2 separate regions of the Homo sapiens genome follow, and region 1 is linked to region 2. The links come from fine-mapping of genetic effects on gene expression. A gene starts in region 2. The other region holds a variant in brackets. All regions are shown on one strand. Distances are from middle to middle.

Region 1 (4,385 bases), 150 kb after region 2:
GAAGATTTAAAGGGGAGATTTGAGGGTGTGTGAAGGCAGAGAGAAAGGCATTGGTAGGAAGAGGGATATTTAAAATGTGAGAGAAGAGATGGTGGTGCCAGATTGAAGGAGGAGGAGTGATGGGCCCAGGTGGAAGGATGAGTACTGAGTTAGGACACAAGTACTGGATAGTACTGAGTTAGGACAAAAGTGCTGAGTAGTACTGAGTCAGGACACAAGTACTGAGTAGTACTGAGTTAGGGGACAATTCAGTGAAGATGGCCTCCAGGGTGAGGCCAAGGTTAGGGAGGGAGAAAAGTTGTGGCTGTTTGGCCTTTATTCTCTCTGAAAAGCAGGAAATGAAGTCATCTACAGAGAATGAGGTAAACAGAGGCAGTGAAGAGAAATATTTTGAGAGAGGGAAGGGTTTACAACAACTGCTGTGGGAAATGGGAAGTCATTCTGGGACAAGTACGCAGACTGTTGAGACTTAGTCAGGGTCTGCTAGTGGTGACACCAGTTGAAATGGTTATGCGCTTTTCTCCCCGGAGCATCACAGGCCGGAAATAGAGGAGAAAGTAAATGCTTTCATGGATTTGGGATTTGAGGTAGGCAAACAGGTGGGACAGAAAGGCAAAAGGGTGAGGAAATGGCACGAAGAAATTCTTTAAAGATGTTGATCAAAGGGTCAAGGTCGGGCAGGAAAGAAAGTGAAGCTAGGAGGGGAATGGTGGGCTTGTTAAATTAGGAATGGTCCAGGGACTGAAGGTCTAACGGAGGTCAAAAACAGATTCAGTGGGAGTGAGGAAGGAGAACGGACATAAGGACAGCAGACGCAGCTTACAAAATGGGATTCAGAGTTCATTATTTTTGAGACGAAGAAATTGTGGGAGATGGTCAGACTGAGGGCGGGGCTGTGTTTCCATGGAATCTGCTGTAGGAGTGCAGGATGCTGCAGCAGAGGATCCCAGGATGTGGACAGTCCATGTGGGTGCTGAAATTCACAGGAGGAACGCAGAATAGGGGTGAGCAGGGAGATACTGAGTGCCAACGTTCCTGCTGAATAGAGGGGAGATGTCATCAGCAGATGACAGTGACAAGTAAGTAGAGAGGATCGAATGGCCTCAAAAGAGCAGGGATGTTTGTATGAGGGTGAAGGAACACATGTGGACAGTGGTATCAGCAAAAGTCACTTGCTACAGTAGTAGGGGGGTAAACAGGCACCTGGCACAGTTAGGCAGACCAAAGCGGGGCAGCAGTTTCAAGGTTCTGTTATTTTTTGTGTGTGTTTGTTGGTTGGTTCATTCAACCATTCATTCAAAAAGGATTTGATGAGATGCGTCTGCTGAGCCCTGAGCGCTGTGCTAGGCGTGCAGGACGCTGCCTCTTCCACAGGAATGCACACCAGCCAGCAGCCTTTCCCCGTTTTGCCAAAGGTGGCCCCCCTCTCGCTCAGCAAGCCCCCCACACCAAAGTCCTGGCACCAAAGCCAGGCAGGCCCTGACACGGCTGGTGACCAGTAGGGGATCTTCTTGTTACAGCTTTTTCCCCAGAGATAAATAGGCCACAGTAAAAAAGATTGCTACATCCTTTCAATAAAGA[T/C]TTTTTTTCTTTTCCAGACAGCTTGAGAAATGTTTTAAAAGCTTCTCACATTTCCAGTGAAACCCACAGAGAAGAATTTTGCTTGTTATCAGCCCTGGAAGCCTCTGATAGACGGGTGACATTTTTTTTCTTTTTCTTTCTCTTTTTCTCTTTTCCTTTTTTTCACCAGCTGAAGAGAGAGTCACAGTGTGTTTTATAACTGGCTCTCTGCATTTCAAAAGCTCAACGAGAGCTCTCTGCTAACCCCGATAAGCCTTGGGCTCTTAGCGTCTTAAATACCTCTGACAAGCTATACATTACAGCGCTAATAATTTGCCAAATTTGCGCCCATAATATGATATCTGTAAAACGTCAAGGGCAGTAATGCGATTAGCGGTCTCAAATGAAATATCGAACATTCAGCGTTTAGGTCCTGAATAGGGGGAGAAAGGAAAGGAAATCAATTTCAAAAGCAGGAGGGAAAAAGGCGATAAGCGTGTAATAAAAATAGAGAGAGACAGAGGAGAGATGCGGAGGAAGAGACGGGCAGAGCAAGACGCAGGGAGAGATAGACCAGCCTGCATTCGTGTTTGAGGCAGGTAAGAGATGTAAAAAACTTTTACAAAGCAGTTCCAACACGAAGCTGGGAAATAACATTTGGTCACCACAGCAACCGGGTTTGGGTGGAAGGAGGGAGGTGGGGGCTGGGAGTTGAGGAAGGGGTTGGCCAAGCCTAGGGACCGGCCTTTCACTCTCTGCCCCCAACAGCCTGCTTCCATAAAACACAGGAAGTTGAATTACAAGGAGTCTGAGGGTGGGCTCTCACCCTGCCCCCACCTACCCGAGGTGGGAGAGTCGTAATGGACTAATTATCTGGCCAGCAGAGGCGGTGGCGGCGGCAGTTCGCAGGAGAGAGGGCCCGGGCTGTCACATACCAGGCTCTAGACTAAATAACAACATCTCACACCTGCAGCTTTACGAGCCCTTGCTGAGAGGAGCCAGTGCAAGCCCTCCCCTCCCTTTGCCCCCCTCCAGCATCCCCCCATTCACATTTGGGCCCCCACTCTAGCCAGGCTGCTGCTGGGGCACCAGAGTGGCAGGGGGAGTCTCCCCCTTGCTGAAGCTAGGACCCATCGCTCAATCCTTACAACTTGCAGGTATCTCGACTCACAATGCCGCTGCTCTTGGGTCCCCCAGCTAATTCCCCAGGGACCTGAGCAAGGCAAGCGGACTATGCCATTAAAATACCCCATGCCAGAGGTCACTGGCGAGCAGGTTTGTCTGCACCTGCAGCTATGTCTCAGGCTCGGGATGGACGAGGGGATGGGGCTGCGCTGGATGCTGGATTGTGAGGGCAGAAATGACCAATGGATCCTCTTGGGCCCTGGGGGATAGCAGAGGCGGGAGCCCTCTGAGCTGCCTCAGCACATTTCTCTGCTTTCTCCTTCCATACCTCTCCCTAACACCATGCGAAGCAGGTTCTTTCAAAGCATGGTGTTCCTGCTCCTTCTGCACCACTTGGTCTTGGACCTGACCCCATAACCATTAGCCTCATTTTGTAAAGAGATGAGGTTTTGGCAGAGCTGTGTCAAGAGAAGAACGCAAACAATGACAGATGCAGGAGCCTGTGCCTTAGCAAGGGGATGGCATTCAGGAAGCGCGGGACCAAGTCCTATCCCCACTCTAAATGTCCAAGGCCTCTAGTCCCACTGTCTCCCCACAGCTGGAGGCTCCCAACTAGGGTTCAGGCCAGCTCACCTAGGCAAAGAGGAGGTGAAAGGTGCTGGCTGGCCTGGGGTGGGAGGAGAGCAAACAGGCTGCCTGGGGCCTGCCCAGACCCTTCCCCGGGGCAGCCTGGAATGGCCATTACAGGGCCACTTCTTGCGGCACCACGAGCCATTAAAGCAGGAGTGCTCGGGGAGCCATCAGCCCAGTGCAGATGACTTCCCCAGATGTGGCAGTGGGCAGGATGTGGAAGCCCCCAGCCCCAACTCTACAGACAAAACATTCCCACACTCACCATCCTCGGAAACCCCACAGCCCAGAGCCCCTCTTACAGATGCTTTCTAGACCATTTAGCAGGAGGCAGTGTTTATTTTTGAACATATGTTCTTCCCCATCTCTCGCCTTCCTTCTCCCTTACTAGTCCTTCCAGACCCAAAGCTGCTCTCTGGATGGGCTGCTGTTGGTTGTGACTGCCAAGCTCCAAGGCCAGTGTGGGTAGCACGCTTTGTTTTGGCTTTGTGAGTGCTTAAGCATATGCATGCATGCACACACAGTCCTACTTGCTCTAACTACCATTAGTGGAATGTATGTACCACACCAGCTCCAGGAGGGCAGGGCCTCAGAGGTTATCTAAGTTTGTGAGCAAATTATAAACTAAGATCGAGTTTCCCTACTTTCCAAAATGGGTATACTAGTCAAAGATGGTCCCCGGGCATTGCATTCCTTTTGGGAAGGTGACATCAAGCACAGAAGGTCCCCCCGCCCCCCCAGGAGGGATGTTTCTACCTGAAGCTCAGATTGGTCTCTACTTGGTTCTCTCTGTCCATGCATAGAGCCCAGCCCAGTGCTGTGCTCAACTATTGTCCACCCACCTCAATTAAGGTCTCTCTTTTCTTCAATAAAATAGAATCCTCCAGTCCTTAAGTGACCAGTTCGACTTTTACCCCCTTCAAGAAGTCTTCTGTAACTCAAATGCTCTGAGTTCTGCTTCTTCTAATAGGTATGGGGCCTCACATTTATTGGGTGCCTACTGTGTGCCAGGCTCCATGTTAGGCATTTTGCATGTCATTCCATTTAGCTTTCAGGACTCTGGATATTAT
Region 2 (4,385 bases):
CATCTATAAGGCCCCATAGACTCCCACACTGCAACTTCCAGTTAGACTTATCTGGCGAACTCCAGTTAGGCATATCCAATGGCCTTCTGGATACCTCCACTTGGATGTTCCATTGGCACCCCAAGCTCACCGTGCCCAGAACTGACCCTCTCCTAAAAACCCCTGCTTCCTCTCCTTCCTGTTTGCCCAAACCAGGAATCTAGAAGTCATCCTTCATTTCCCTTACTTCCCCCACACCCAATTAGTAACCAAGTCCATTTTTTTCTAGCTATAAGTGTCTAAGGAATTCATCCTGCCCTTTCCATTTCAGCTGCCACTCCATGCTTTGTGCCACCATAATCCTTCCCCACTACTGAAACAACCTCCTAACTGGTCTCCCTCCTTCTCCCAATCCTCAATCCAGTTCCTGCACTAATGTTTCTTTTTTTTTGAGACAGAGTCGCGCTCTGTCACCCAGGCTGGAGTGCAGTGGAGCAATCTCGGCTCACTGCCACCTCTACCTCCCAGGTTCAAGCCATTCTCCTGCCTCAGCCTCCCAAGTAGCTGGGATTACAGGTGTGCACCACCATGCCCGGCTAATTTTTGTATTTTTAGTAGAGATGGGGTTTCGCCATGTTGGCCAGGCTGGTCTCGAACTCCTGACCTGAAGTGATACGCCCGCCTCAGCCTCCCAAAGTGCTGGGATTACAGGGGTGAGACACCACACTGGGCTCTTTGTTTTGTTTTTTGAGACAGGGTCTCACTCTGTCACCCAGGCTGGAGTGCAGTGGCACAATCATGGCTTACTGCAGCTTTGACCTCCTGACTCAAGTGATCCTCCCACCTCAGCTTTCCAAGTAGCTGGGACTTCAGGCATGCGCTACCATGCCTGGCTAATTTTTAAAATTTTAATTTTGTAGAGATGAAGGTCTCACTATGTTGCCCAGGCTGGTCTTGAACTCCTTCAAGCCATTCTCCCGTCTTGGCCTTCCAAAGTGCTGGGATTACGAGTTTGAGCCACCGCGCCTGGCATGCAAAGAGTCTTTCCCCCTCCCTATCTCTAAAAGTCTTTCAAGGCCCAGCTCAAGAGCCAACCCCACTGCCATAAATGCCCCTTCTCTGATTCTGAGCTCCTCAAATCCTTACTCTTCTGTAGTATTTATCTCACACGCAGAATCAGAGTTGCTTCATGCATGGTTTCTCTCCCTCTCCCGTTAAGACATGGGAGAGGGAGGGCCAAAAGCTTGATTCTCACTAGGGCCTAAGGAACCTTATTTAGCCCACCCAGTCTCTGGCACATAGTATGTAAATATGCTGGCACATAGTATGTAAATATAGATAAATGCAAGAAAGTTGCACTCCCAGCTCCTCGGTGGGCCCTATCAACAGGGCATTCTCTAAAGTCATCAACTGAAGACTGCTTCCCATCCACCCATCCATCCATCCATCCATCCATCCATCCAGAATATGCCTCAACCCCACTGGGTGGAGGTTGGGTCGGCACGCGCCCCCTAGGCCGTTTTGTACGGTTTTATACCTCCAGCCCTCGCAGTTGCGGCTGGTAGAGGATGGCAGAGGTAGGTAGACGATGCAAGTCAAAGGGCACACTCTTCCGCCGCGTAGGATAGGACTCTGTTCGGACGAGTGACCCTGCCCATTCCCAGAATACAGCAACTCTTCAGCCGCCTCTCACCTACATGAGAGGGTGGGGACTCTTCCTGACCGGCGCCCCGGCTGACCAATACCTGATCCAGATCAAGCGAATTAGCCAATGGCTGCGGGTCAGTAATAGGGGCGGGGCATGGTTGCTAGGGCCGAGCTAGTGGGGTGAGGCGAGAGGCTCTGGAAGAGACTCGGTGGTTGCTAAGGCGGGAGGTCACAGAGCGCGGCGCAGGGATTGGGCCGTGTTGGGGGAGGTGTGTGGTGATTGGGCGGCGCCCAGGAGGCGCCCGGGTGAGGCACGGGTGCGCAAGCGGGAGTTCCGGCTGGAGACCCGTGCTCTGGGCCGGCGCCTTCACCATGGCCTCGGCAGAGCTGGACTACACCATCGAGATCCCGGATCAGCCCTGCTGGAGCCAGAGTATGGAATGAGGGTTGGGTCCAGGCGCGGGGAGGTGACCTCATGAACCTGTGGGTTGCGAGCGCAGCTGTAGCCCCGCCCCTCATGCGGCCCCGCCCTCCCTCGGGCCGCCCCCTCATAGGGTCTGGCAGGTCCTAGACTTAGAGAGGCTCAGAGAGCCCCGCCCCTCGTAAGTCCCGCCCCAGAGTGTTCCTCCCTGGCGAGCCCCGCCTCTGCCCGAGTCAGCTGCTCGCTTGGGACCTCTTTTTCTGTCTTTCCTGTCCGGGGTGCTCAGGTCCATGCCCTTTAATCACTTCTCATAGCTGAAGGCTGCCGAAAGCTGGATCCCTCCTGATTCCTTTGTTTGGGATTGGGCTTCCCACATCTAGCCTATCACTTATTATTTTCCCGAAGGCGTGGAGGGGGAGGCTCGCGGGGTCACCGATCCTCGCAGAAGCCCGGGACTCAGAACCCTTAGCCGTCCCTCTCCACTCTTCTCGGCAGTGGTTAACAGTGCAGTCTCTGCCGTCGGGTAGAACTCGACTGAAATCCTGACTCCTTCCTTTAGGAGCTGGATTACCTTTGGTAAGCTACCTTCTCTGAACTTCAGTTTCCTCCTCTGCAAAACCGGGATAAGGATAGTAACCTTCCTCATAGGGCTGTTGGGGCCATCTGGAGATTGTGTAAAGGGCCTGGCATGGAGTGAGTTCAGTAATTGGCATTTACGATCAGCATTGTTTCTCTCCTTACATTAAAGAAAGACATGTAGGATTCTCCACAAAATTAGGATTGACAGCAGGCCCGCATCCATGACAGTGTGAGTAGATCGGGGTCCAGAGAGTGGAAAGTTTGGTCTCTCTGGGAATTCTGGCAGAAGGGCCTTGAAGTATGATCAGCCTGAGGCCAGCGTGTCCCTCACTTGCATTAGTCCAGCATCGCCTTCACGCCTCCTGTCTCACTGCCTGCAGCCCAGCCTCTTAAACTGCTACCACAGTGATCTTTCTAATGCAAAGGTTTGATCTTATACTCTGCTCTCCATAAAACTTACCTCCTTAAGGAGAGCCTTCCCAGATCCCTCCCGTAGCATCTCATGTTCTTTGGTTGGAGTCTAGGAGAGGGCAGCCCTTAGACTCCCGCAGAACAGATGGCCCCAGACCAGCTGTTTTTCCCTAGAACTGGATCTGCTGGCTTAGCGCTTTTGGGTTTATAGATGTAAAAATACTTTGGACACGTTTTGGCGTCAGCAAGCCATGAAGTCAGTTAATATTATTTCCTTTGGAGAGTCTTCGGCTGCAAAGGGTTGGAGCTGCCTTCTGCACGGCCAGGAGGGCAGCCTCGTGGTCCTGGTTCACATTTCAGCTCCATGTCTTACAAGTTATATGTCTTTGGCAAGCTATTGAACCTCCCTGAGCCTGAGATTCCTCCACTGTGAAATGGGAAGAGTACTAGTGCCTACCTCCTCGTGGGATTGCGAGGGTTACGAGGTAGCGTTTGGATGTGTGTCCCTGGCACAGTGCAGGTGCTGCCATTGCATTGCTCCCCTGTGGTTCCCCCTCAGCCCCCCTTTCTTTTTTTTTTTTTAAGAGATGGAGTCTCCCCTGTCGCCCAGGCCGGAGTGCAGTGGCGGATCCCATGGCTCCCTTTGCTGCTCCAGGAGGCTGGGTCTTAGAATTGGAAGAAATCTCAGAGACTGTTTTGTCCTGCCTCCCTCTGTTGGCATGAGTGCATTCCATTGCTAGCAGACCCTTCCCTGGGGCGATGCTTCTGCCCAAACATTCTAGCCTGTTGGAGGCAGCTGGGATTGTTAGAAAGCACTTCCCTTTCTTGAGCCACAATAGGCCTTCCTGTAATTTCCGCTCTCAGTTCAGTATTTGCTGTGTCCTGGCTGTGGGATCGTTGTTGGCCACTCAGAAGTGACTCACACGCCCAAGGAGCTGAGGTTTTGGGGAGGGGAGTGAATTTATAAGCAGGTGGTTTCAAAATGGTGTGCTAACTGCAGGGCTAGAGCATTGTGGTGGGAACGATACAGAGCAAGGAATCTCTCTTCCTCTGTTCAAGAGGACAGCTTCGTGCCTTCACATTTCCTCCAAGGGAAACACCTCCACGGCTTTCAGTTGTTTCTCCTCCTTATTGCTGCTCCTGACTGGCTTTAATTCATTGCCCTTCCCTCTCACAGTCCATGCTCCAGAGGAGAGCTAGAGGTTGTCAAACCCCTCAGAAGGAGATCACGACGCTGTGGTCCCCTGAATCCATTTGCTTCCTATCTGCAGAGCTTCCCTCCAGGCCAACATGGCCTGATAGAGTGACAGTCTTTTGGAGCCCCAGAGATTGTCTGTCTTTTGCAATT

Direction of the effects. Alleles are on the strand shown, and positions count from the first base shown. SD is a standard deviation of normalised expression in the study named.
For the expression in prefrontal cortex of the gene that starts at base 1,676 in region 2, allele T in region 1 goes with a lower level than allele C (large effect, 1.3 SD a copy in GTEx).

The links. PIP is the estimated chance that this variant, and not a neighbour inherited with it, causes the effect.
Region 1: its variant is the best candidate, but not a certain one, in a credible set for the expression of ARMH1 in prefrontal cortex (GTEx, PIP 0.80).

What each region holds. Positions count from the first base shown.
Region 1 is chr1:44,522,323-44,526,707 of GRCh38, reverse strand. All of the region lies in intron 2 of RNF220 (ring finger protein 220), which reads right to left. Among named protein-coding and RNA genes, the nearest start is that of MIR5584, 21 kb to the left of the region's middle. RefSeq lists enhancers at 1,231-2,556, 2,206-3,062, 3,063-3,920. The variant T/C (reference allele first, on the strand shown) is at 1,582.
Region 2 is chr1:44,672,005-44,676,389 of GRCh38, reverse strand. ARMH1 (armadillo like helical domain containing 1) reads right to left here and starts at 1,676. Exons shown (of 12, transcript NM_001145636.2): 1 at 1,517-1,676. It overlaps TMEM53 (transmembrane protein 53), which reads left to right and starts at 1,909. Exons shown (of 3, transcript NM_024587.4): 1 at 1,909-2,059. The coding sequence starts at 1,999. RefSeq lists silencers at 1,737-1,786, 1,857-1,906, 2,057-2,196 and an enhancer at 1,964-2,465.